3 linked regions of the Homo sapiens genome follow. The protein of the gene in region 1 purifies or fractionates together with the protein of each later gene. This does not show direct contact. Each region holds a gene or a part of one and is shown on either strand. Other genes may lie near its edges. The genes, in order: ZNF444, SCAND3 and KLHL15.

Evidence for each region.
Region 2: the proteins of ZNF444 (region 1) and SCAND3 purify together in Homo sapiens (affinity purification with mass spectrometry; 3 studies listed by BioGRID and IntAct, with this or other methods). This does not show direct contact.
Region 3: the proteins of ZNF444 (region 1) and KLHL15 purify together in Homo sapiens (affinity purification with mass spectrometry; 2 studies listed by BioGRID and IntAct, with this or other methods). This does not show direct contact.

Annotation. Positions count from the first base shown.
Region 1 is NC_000019.10:56,139,710-56,143,460, reverse strand, and holds the start of ZNF444 (zinc finger protein 444), read right to left. Parts: upstream 2,175-3,751; 5' UTR 2,104-2,174; intron 1,764-2,103; exon of another isoform or gene 1,229-1,763; intron 1,186-1,228; exon of another isoform or gene 1-1,185. UniProt on the Homo sapiens protein: Transcriptional regulator. Binds to the 5'-flanking critical region of the SCARF1 promoter.
Region 2 is NC_000006.12:28,580,626-28,584,376, forward strand, and holds part of SCAND3 (SCAN domain-containing protein 3), read right to left. Parts: intron 1-3,751.
Region 3 is NC_000023.11:23,985,587-23,989,337, forward strand, and holds part of KLHL15 (kelch-like protein 15), read right to left. Parts: intron 3,445-3,751; coding exon 2,335-3,444; 3' UTR 1-2,334. UniProt on the Homo sapiens protein: Substrate-specific adapter for CUL3 E3 ubiquitin-protein ligase complex.

The sequences.
Region 1 (3,751 bases):
TCGGAAGACCCAGGCCAGATCCAAGTCTCAAAAGCCACACAGATGCCTGCTCTGCTATAAAAAAGATCCCTCTGGGACTAAGGAGGAATTTCCGCCAGAGAGCAATGCCACAGGCCATCAAGCTGACCCTGTTTGCAATCTCAGAGGTGATCACAGGTCACTACACCCTGGGCTGTCCAGAAAGTGAGCTCTCTGGGGCAGTGACCAAGTCCAGCTCTTCACTGGGTCGGTGGGGCCATCCAGCACAAGGCCTGCTCCCAAGAAAGCACATGCTGTTAAGTAAGGGCCTTCCACCATGTCAATCCACCCTACCATCCAATGAGCGCCCTGTGCTATGTGCATTCAACAGCTGTAACCCTGCTGTCTAGCTGTCTGTGTCCGCAAAGCACAGTCCAGTCCAGAGCCAGGCACCCTGGATGCCTTGAAGACAGCCACTGAGTGGCTAGTGTCTTATACTGCCCCACCCAACCTTCCCAACAGACCTGTGAGCTGGGGAGATGGGTCCCCTCTTACCATAGGGAGATGCTCAGAGAGTGAAGGAGCCACAAATGGGACCCAGATGTGACTCCAGAGTCCACACCAGTTCCACCTAGTACCCCGGCACCAGCACCCACATATGCTGGGTTAATATCATGGCTAAGAGGCTGTGGAGTCTGGCTGCCTGGCTTCAACTTCCAGCTCTGCCACTCATCAGCAGTGTGACTGTGGACGTGTGACTTACCCCCTCTGTGCTTCATTTCTCCACCTGAGACACAGGACTAACAAGAGCTCCTTCCTCTCAAGAGGCTGCTGGGAGCAGGAGTTAGAAGCAGCCTCCAAAGGCTAAGTGCTCGACAAAGACCGGTTTGTCTACTCTAGGTTCCCAACCTCGACATTAATGGCACTTGTGTCGTGGCGGGCTATCCTGTGCAACATACGATGTCTACCAGCATCTCTGCCTCTTTTCATGAGATGCCAGTAGCACTTCCCAAGTTGGAAAAACCAAAAAAAAAGTCTCCAGACATTGCCACATGTCCCCTGGGGGACAAAACCACTCCTGGTTGAGAGCCGCTGGCCCACTGGACAAATATTTACCTACGGCACAAAGGCTCTGGGGCAAATTCCAGCTCTGCCTCCTACCAGCTCTGTGTCCTTGGACGAGGTACAAGGCACCTTTTGTAATACCCTGTATCTCCATTTCGTTGACTGTAAAGTGATAGAAGGAGAACAAAAATGCTGAGAACCACACCTGGCTAGTAAGTGTCCAGTCAGACTTAGGGTTACTTTGTCGAAGTTTCCCTGCGAGGTGCCCAGGGGACACTGCTATGAACACGCACGCAGATTAAAATACTAAGTATACATTGGAATAGGCGTTAAAATCGGATATAGAGGAGGGTGACTCCATCCTGACTGGGGTAGAGGTGGCGGGGGTCAACTTCATTTGACAATAAACAGAGTTTCTAAGCACTTTACACATATTACCGAAGGTAATAATGCCTTGCAACAAGCTAAAAAGGCAGATGCTCCGCACTGAGAAAGCAGCAAAACAGAGCAACGATTCTTATCTTCAGGAATCTCACAACTCTGTAAAAGTTGCACTTGTAGAAGCAGCGCGCAAAACGAGCCACCTGCGCCGTATCTACGTTACAACAATAACCATCGTCCCCGGAAGCCCCTTCCCGCAAACCTTTCCGAAGGGGTCCGGTCCCGGCGCCCCCAGACTCCTTTGTAGGGTCCAGCTTCCCACTCAGCTTTCATCTCACAGCCCACCCTCTGCTAGGGTCCCCTTCCCCTCCCCCACCTGTCCCTCCCCCGTCCCGCCCCTCCCCCTCCCCCAGGCGCCCCTCCCCCGTCCTCTCCCTCAGCATTTCTCTCCCGCGTTCAGGACCTCGAGGATCCACGACCCCCTCCCACTATCCACCCCTCCCCCTCTCCAAGTCCCTCCCCCTCTAGTTCCCTCTCCCAGCCCCTTCCCCATCACTCAGCCCCCTTCTCCTCCCCTCCCCGCAAGTCTCCCATCTTTCCCTCCTGAGGCCCCCGGCGCCCCTCTTCCCATCCAACCTCTGGTCCCTCCCTCGTCCAACCGCCCCCACCCAATCCCTCCCTCCTTCCCCCCTCGCTCACCTCACTCTCTCAGGCGAGGCCCCCCAAGCCCCCTCACCTCCCCGCACATGCGCACAAAGCTCGCCGGGACTCCATGCCCCAGCAGGCTTTGCGCCAAACTCCCCCGTCCCCCTCCCCCAATCCCATACTCCGAGCCGCTCGTTCAGCCCAACAACTCCCCATGAAGCCCCGGCCTCACCCCGAACTACAACTCCCAGGAAGCATCGCGGCAAAGGCGGCTGCCAATTGGCCCTCGCCTGGGGACCGCCTTACTCCTGTTTGTCACCGCGTGGCGTCTTCGCCAACACTGGAACTACATTTCCCAAGATACGCGAAAGCGTCGTCTGCAGCCTATTTGGCCTTGACGGCGCAAATGTCGCGGGCTGTCTGAGCGCGACAGGCTTTGGACTACATTTCCCAGAATGCACGAGGAGGCTTCCCAGTGGTCTGCGCGCGGGCCCTGGACATGCGCAGAAGTGCCGGGAAAAAAAGAGGGAGGAGGAGGAGGAGCCATGGCGGCGTTGTTGTGGAGATCAGGGGAGGCCGGGCACCGCCGGGCATTTGGGAGGTGGGGCCTCCGGAGCTCTAGAAGCTGGCAAGCGAAGAGGAGGAGGAGGAGGAGACCAGGCTAGAGTTCTGCGCCAATCAGGAGTGCAGGCTACGTCTCCTTGACTACGGATCGCATTTTTTTTTGTCCTCCCTCTCCACCCGGGCAGAACTTAAGGGCCGATGTCGGTGCCAGGAATCAGGACGTGAGCAGGCTGCCCTCCTGTTCCGGGGTGGGCAGTGGCTCAGGAGGGGGCCAGCGCGGGGGCCTCGGTTTGGCTCTTCCTGTGTGTGAACCTGGACAGGACACCGCCCTCTCTTTAGCCTCAGTTTCCCCTGGGGTGAATTGGGGGACAGCGCTACCTGCCACGCGTCCTCGCTGTGCCCCTATTGGACAGACTACTGCCCCGTCCTGAGGCCTCAGTTTCTGCATCTCAGAACTGTGAAGAAGCATATTTGGATTTTAGAGCAGACAGACATCCTAAGAGATCAGCTGAAGTTTTTATCTAGACAGTTCCAGACCTGATTATGGCTCATACAAGCCCTACCCCAGCCCGCAGCGTATTTCCTCCTCCGTACAACAAGGATAAGAGAATCCCCCTCCCATCCTCCACCTCCCCGGCTGATCTGAAGACTCCGCGCCATAAAAACGAAGACAGTGGCTTACCCATAACAAGCATTCATTACATGGAAGTTGTTCGTCTTATATTCATAAATGAACAACTTTCCCCAGGTTTCACAAGCGATGAGTGGCTGACTCAGAACTTTGTGACCAGTTTGCCCACGGTGGCCTAATCTGCCCTGGCCCACCTGTCTACCACTGTCTTCTCCTCGTGTTTAATGAGTTCCAGTCATGCCTCCTTTCTGCTCCTAGAGCACGCTGATCTTCTTCCCACTCATATCCGATGGCCTACTTGACATCTCCTCTTGGATTTCTTAATAGGCATCTCAAACCTAAGGTGGGCAGTAGATAATTTTTCACTCTCTCCCCCACCTTGCGAAGAAATTTGTTCCTTCCCATTACTCCACCATCTTAGAAAGCAAGTCCATCTTCACCCAAATGTTGAGGCCAAAAATAGAAAAGCAGCCCTTGATTCTTTTTTCTTTTTTTTTTTTTGGTTTT
Region 2 (3,751 bases), on another chromosome or scaffold:
TGCATAACTGCCAGAAACAGAATCTGTGAAAGAGGGCCACCTGCTGTTTATAATTAAACAATGTATCAATTCTGTAATGTTAGTATACACAATCCCAGCTTTTGGAGCAACTAAGAAACAAAATATGGATATGGTTCATTGTGCTGAATTATTCACTGACTCTCCCCCACCCCCCCACCCCCCCAAGCACAAACACAAATCTAGTCTCTTGATTCCTCTACTTTTCCACCAGCTGGACTAGACCAAAATGGGTGGGCCTGGTCTTAGAACCGGGAGGAACTCCACTTCTGCCTCTACCACAGAAGTTTGAAGAGTACCTTGGGTAGTGGTAATAAATTACAAAACTGAAGTTACTTCAAACTGGTCATGACAGTCATTAGTCTTTCAGTATTCAATTCCTGGGTTTGATTTTTTTTAACGCTGGAAAGAAGCTGAGTGCAGTAGCTGACATCTGTAATCTCAGCACTTTGGGAGGCCGAGGTGGGAGGATTGCTTGAGCTCAGGAATTCGAGACCAGCCTGGGCAACATAGTGAAACCTCATCACTGCCCAAAATACAAAAAATTAGCCAGGCATGGTAGCACATATCTGTGGTCCCAGCTACTCAGGAGGCTGAGGAAGGCAGATTGCTTGAGCCTGGGAGGTGGAGGTTGCAGTGAGCCAAGATCGTGCCACTGCCCTCCAGCCTGGGTGACAGAGTGAGATTCCATCTCAAATAAATAAATAAAAATGCTGGAAAGAAACTTTTGGTTGTAATATGGTAGAGTAAATATTGCTGTGTTCATTAGAAATGCACATATTTCCAATAAATTCGAACATCTAACTTACAGTGGCACAAACAAATAGGGGTTTATTTTTGTTACATAACAAGAAGCCTAGAAGAAGGTAGTTGCTGGCACCAACTCATTTATCTAACAGTTTTTCAGGGACCCTAGCTGTCTTCATATTTCTGCTCTGTCACTTTTAACACTAGCATTTGGCCTCATGCTTACCATCACTTAATGGTCAGAAGATGGCCAGATATCATATTAGTGTTCAAGACTGGAAGTGAGAAAAGGTGAAACTAAAGTAATCTCCCCTATCCTATCAGGAAAATAAAAGCTTCCCCAGGAACCTCCTCCCCGAAATATGCTTATTTCTCCCTGGCCAGAATTCTGTTGCATAGTTAACTCTAGAACAAGGAAGCCTGGAAAAGAATTTAATTAGATATATTGCCAGTATGAACAAAACCAACATTTTGTCGGGAGGAAAGAAGGGTAGAATAGACACTGGGTTGGCAGCTAAAAGTGTCTGCCAGTGGTATTTCCCCTGTGGGGGAAATCACACAAAAACAAGAAAAATGAGAAACATTTATACAAACTTGATATTCAACAACACTAAGAGATATTTATAACTCTGACCACATTAAAAAAACTATCAAACATGATCAGCGTATAACCTGAACAATACCCAAGGAACTGACCAAACACCAAGTCCTACCAGAAGCTACATTTTTCAACAAAGCTAGAAGGGGAAATTTTAAAGCAAGCTTATCCACCCTGCAGCCTGCAGGCCACTTGCAGCCCAGGACAGTTCTGAATGTGGCCCAACACAATCTTGTAAACTTTCTTAAAACATTGTAAGATTGTTTTGTGATTTTTTTTAAGCTCATCAGCAATCGTTAGTGTTAGTGTATTTTAGTGTGGCCCAAGACAATTATTCTTCCAATATGGCCCAGGGAAGCCAAAAGATTGGATACCCCTATTCTAAAGTAACAGGCATATCTTAAGGGGGAAAAAAACTACAGTATTTGTTATTTAAAGCAAAGAGAAAAGGGTGTGCTGACTAGACGTGAGAAACTGCTTATATAGGCATTTGTGCTGCAACATAACATATGAATGTATTAAAAAAACATGCTTTCTGCAAAACTGCAGAAAAGTGACAGGATTTATGGGGAAAATACGGTTAAAGGGTGGACTATTTTAACACCTACACAACTTTGTCACTAGAGCATTATTAAAACTATAACAACTCCCGGCTGGCGCACGGTGGCTCACGCCTGTACTCCCAGCACTTTGGGAGGCTGACGCGGGCGGATCATGAGATCAAGAGATCGAGACCATCCTGGCCAACATGGTGAAGCCACGTCTCTACTAAAAATACAAAAATTAGCTGGGCGTGGTGGCGCTTGCCTGTAAATCCCAGCTACTTAGGAGGCTGAGGCAGGAGAATCGCTTGTACCAGGGAGGCAGAGGTTGCAGTGAGCCAAGATCCTGCCACTGCACTCCTGCCTGGGGACAGAGTGAGACTCCGTCTCAAAAAATAAAAATAAAAATAAAATAAAATAAAAAACACTATAAAAACTCTAGTAAAAATATAAGACATTAATAAATCTTACTTTAAGTATAGGATTTTACCTTAGAAAGGTGATGTTATCTTGTTAGAAACAAGTGTGAGGAAAGGGGGGGCAAGGGTGGAAGGATATAATCATCAAAAATTCAAAGGTGGGTCGGGCACGGTGGCTCACGCCTGTATTCCCAACACTTTGGGAGGCCGAGGTGGGCGGATCACGAGGTCAGGAGACTGAGACCATCCTGGTTAACACGGTGAAACCTCGTATCTACTAAAAATTAGCCGGGCGTGGTGGCGGGCGCCTGTAGTCCCAGCTACTCGGGAGGCTGAGGCAGGAGAATGACTGAACCCCGGAGGCAGAGCTTGCAGTGAGCCGAGATCGTGCCACTACACTGCAGCCCAGGGGACAGAGCGAGACTCTGTCTCAAAACAAACAAACAAACAAACAACAACAACAACAATTCAAAGGTGGAAAGATATAATCATCAAAAATCCAAGTGAAGACGCTTGAACATTTGATGTTATATTCTTCCACCCTTGGATATAGTGATACTACAAGAAACATGATGTGGGTTCCCGTTTATCATCTTGTTTTTATTTATTTGACACTGGCTTATAAAAAGATACCCAGTGTTTGCTGTTTTAACACTTTCCTTCTTTCATAAAGAAGCTGTTTATATGGGTCCAATTAGGGCTTTATGTCATGAAGTGAAATCATGCTGCGTTCTGCATTGTAGTCATTATCTTTTATCTACTCCAACTGCTTCTCTATCATACTTGAAGCAGAAGATAACTGAGAAGTGAAAAGCTCTTGGGAGGCAGCTTGTAGCTTGTGGAACTGCATGTTCTTCTTCCTCCACACCTTCCATTTGTGCCTCAGCAACTAACTTGCAGCTCTTCTGTAGAAAGATCCTGTGTGTCAGATTGCAGCAGCTCCGCATTATCCTCACTAGCAACTTCTTCAAATCCAACCCCCTTTGCAAGAGCGATACAGCTTGGGTTGGTTTTGGGGAGATCTTCTGAAGGCTCAAAGGCTTTGGAATCATAAATTAAATCAGGGAGAATTGTATATCACACCCCGTGCAAACAGGCTTTTGTGAAATCATTCCAGGCCTCTACAATAATATCAATAATAAGTTTAATGTTGAATCATTTACAGAATTCAAAAAATGTTAGGGCACTGTCACCCCCTGTATAGGCAACCAATATCTTGAATGTTTGCTTTAAATAATAAGCTTTAAAGATTGCAATCACACCATGATTAAGGGGCTGCAGTAAAGAAGTTGTATTGGGAGGTAAAATGAGAACTGTGATATTTGAGGAAAGCTCAGTGACTACTGGAGGGTGGCTTGGTGTATCACTGAGAATTATAAGAATTTTAAAAGACAATTTTTTTCTCTTGCAATGTTTTATTTTTTTTT
Region 3 (3,751 bases), on another chromosome or scaffold:
AAGTTAAGATTTTACGAATTTTACAAAACATGAACTTTGATCTTGGCCTCTGTCTTTAAAATGGAAGACCAAGAATACTCAAATGTTTGCCCAGATGTCACCCTGACTAGGGTCATGAAGTCATATCTAAGCAATTAAAGAGAACCACCACTATAGTGTAAAGGCTTTGATGTGGATACCTGGCCTGATGGCTCTTTCTTGGTCTTTTCTAGCAAAAGACATCAATGAGGAAAATAATGAAGACGTTATTTTCTTTAAAGCAAAATAGCACACATACAAAGCCACTAAACTAATGTAGAAAAAAATTAAATGGCTAACTTATTCCTAACTTTCAAAAATAAAATAATGTATTTTTTAAATGTAGAAAAAGACTTTTACCCATATTACCATGGGAAACAAGATACCAAATTTCATGTTTGGAAACTGTAAGTAAATGACAGGACTAGTTAATGAAAATATAAGTCTCATATATAAAATAAGATTATTATTGATTTTTGAAATCAATGCCAATGGTTTTTTCAAAAGCTACTTATGTACCTGGTTTCTTAAACCCAAATGCCTCCAATTCTGGAGTTTGAAGATCAGGTTTAATCTCATAGTATGTCTAATAACTGCCCAAAAAACCCCCAAAAACCAAAGTCTTCACATTTCCATGACTTCACACTTCCATTTTATGTTCAATGGTGGCAGCAGCAAAAAAACAAACAAACAAACAAAAAAACAAAAAACACCAAACAAAGTGAAACTAGAAAATTTATACATCAGCAGCCATATAGAAGGCATTGCAATATTGCACCAATATTCTAAGATCTGGCAAGTTTTGCCAGTATAGATCTAGTCTGTATCAGATATAGACTACTCATGCGCAAATGGCATCAATTTCAATGATCCACTCCCAGGTTATTCTTGCTTAACTTTGTCAACTATGTTTTTTCCTCTGCATTTAAAGAGTTGAAAGGTGCAGCTAATCCTAAAACACTTATTATAAATGCTTTTAAACAGCTATTCTTGATCCATTCTGAACTTTGTGGTTACTATCCTTCATGCTAATAGCTTTCAGTAAATAAAACAAAAACTGAGGGCTTACATCCCTAGTGTCGCTGGGTATTTTGTACAAAATAAACAAGTAGATAAAACCAGTAACATTATAATTCTATTTCTTACCTCTAAGTCAAAACTGAGGTCAAATTTTCTAAGAGTTTCTACCTTCCATTCAATAACAAATGCAGCAGCCTTACTGAATGTAAAAAATGGGAGTTGCACTTACTTTTAAGGGGCCTTGATTTAGGAGTCTGGTATTACCTAAATGCTCTTTAAAAGTGCTTGCATGCTGCAGGGCCAGAACTTGTCATATACCACTCCGATTCTCACTAAAAACAGGGTAACGTTAAACAGACTGCAAAGAAAAACATTTTCAAAAAGAAAAGACATACATCGACAAAGAACACTAACATTTACTTTTGAAAATAAAATATAAAGTGTTAGTTTTCATAACCATACATGTTTCAGAAATATAAGGAGTTCAAATATTACTGAATCAGTATGGACTGAAGATAGGCTACTTTGATAGCAAATGAGGACTCCAGTTATTTCAACTTTCTAAAAATGTTAATATGTGAAAAGACGTTACATCTAAAATTCAACAAGTATGGCGAACTGTGTGTGCAAGTAAGTGCACTAGCTTAAAAATATAGAATCCTAACCACGCATAAAAGGGATGTGCCTTGTGTATTTATAGGTTGTATGCGAGTATGAATATGCTTTCACTAACACAATGCGGATAAGAGAAGGCAGCTTAGAAATAGTGTTTTGAATATAAAAAGTTAATTTTGTAGAAAATTTATATTTTTGCATTTTCAGCAAAAAGCCATGCAAAAAGGTCAAGAGTTTTAAACTTTTAAATAATAAAACTAAAAAGTATAACAGACTGAAATACACTGAAATAAATCTTCAAAAAGGTTTCAGATAGAGACAGAGACTGAAATCACATCCAGTGACACTTATCGGGTCTTCTCTTAGAAGACACATGACTCCTACGCTAACATCTGAAAGAAATGTTTAAAGCAGAAAATCAATATCCCAGATAAGTGGAGCATTCTATTCAACTGCTTCTGGAAGTAGTTTCAAGAGCTAGCACTTAGAATTAACTTATTGCATGAGTTTGAGGCCACTGAAAAGAAAAAAAGGATGCTAGCACAGAATGAAAAATTCTTACAATGTTAGACCAATGGCTTTGATAGTAAAACTGGTGAGGTTTTTCTTTATATGTTTTAATTAATTACTCTGTGCAAACAAATACTTTGTTTGCCTCTTTTTTTAGGGAGGAGGATGTCATTAGTTGCAACGCCTGACCTCATCCAGTACATAGTCCGGAAAATGCAGGTTGCATACTTGTAAACCATCCAGCTTGCAGGGCATCCGAGGGTACTCATCTTCCTTCCACTTGTTTTCATCCGGATCAAAAGTGAGGATGGAATCGCTGTAATGACCATTATAACAAAGGCCTCCAAGAACCATTATTTGTTTGTCCAGCACAGTCACACCATGGCCACTTCTACCAATCGGCATGGATGCCAAGATGGTCCACTGATCAGTCTCTGGGTTGTATACTTCTGTAGAAGGGCATCCCTGAGATTCGAAAGAGGCCCTCAAGATCACACAGACACCACCGAAGACATAAAGCTTGCCATTGTAAGAAATCATCTTGTGAAAGCATCTCGCGTAATTCATCTTGCTCTTATTCTCCCAACAGTTGGTAACCACTTGAGTTCTCCTGGTCCGTTGTTCTATGGTCCCTTCTTTGCTGGGGTCAAACACGCACACTTGCTTGGAGGTGGAAGATGAGGTGATTCCACCGGTGATAAACAATTTGTTATTGAGCACTGTCCCCTCATGTCCATATTTGTTAACTGGATAAGGATCCACAAATTCCCATTTATCGTTGGTGATGTCATATCTCTCAGTTGAATAGAAAGTCTCATCTCTGGTTCTGCCTGCTACGGCGTAAATAAACTTCCCAATAACACCTACAGCAAATTCAGAGCGTGGTACAGACATATCTGCCATCTGCAGCCAGGAGTTCTGTCTCGGGTCATACCTGAATACTTTGGAAGAAGCATGGAATTCACCATCCGGGCCCAGCTCTTCCCCGCCTAACAGGAACACAAAATTATTGACGATAGCAAGGCAGTCAGGTCGCAGAGGTACTTGTGGGCCTTCTAGCTCCCACCAGACTCTTGGTTTCTTTAAGAGAAGTATTTTACTGTTAACCATGCTATGTCCAATCATTCCTCGAAATACTGTAGTTTGCGGTTTTGCAGAACGGATGCGGCTTGACTTCATATCCAACAAAGGCTGCTGGTGAACATTCTGAAAGTAATTCAATGCTTGGTCAACTTCGTAACGGAGCTGTCGGGAGTATCTATAAAATTCTGATGTCTTAACCTAAGAACACAAGAAAAAGAATTTAACCAAAGGAAAAAGCATCAGCTGCAAACAAATTATCAAAGCTGACTAATACGATCATCTTAGGCTCACTTTACTAAAACTGCTTTTCCTGCTAAGATCACCTACTTTCTTTTGTTTTCTACAAAGCTTTTAAAAAATCTTTTTTTTTTTTTTGGAGATGGAGTCTCACTCTGTTGCCCAGGCTGGAGTGCAGTTGCATGGACTCAGCTCACCGCAAGCTCCGCCTCCCAGGTTCAAGCACTTCTCTGCCTCAGCCTCCTGAGGCGCCTGCCACCACGCGCCC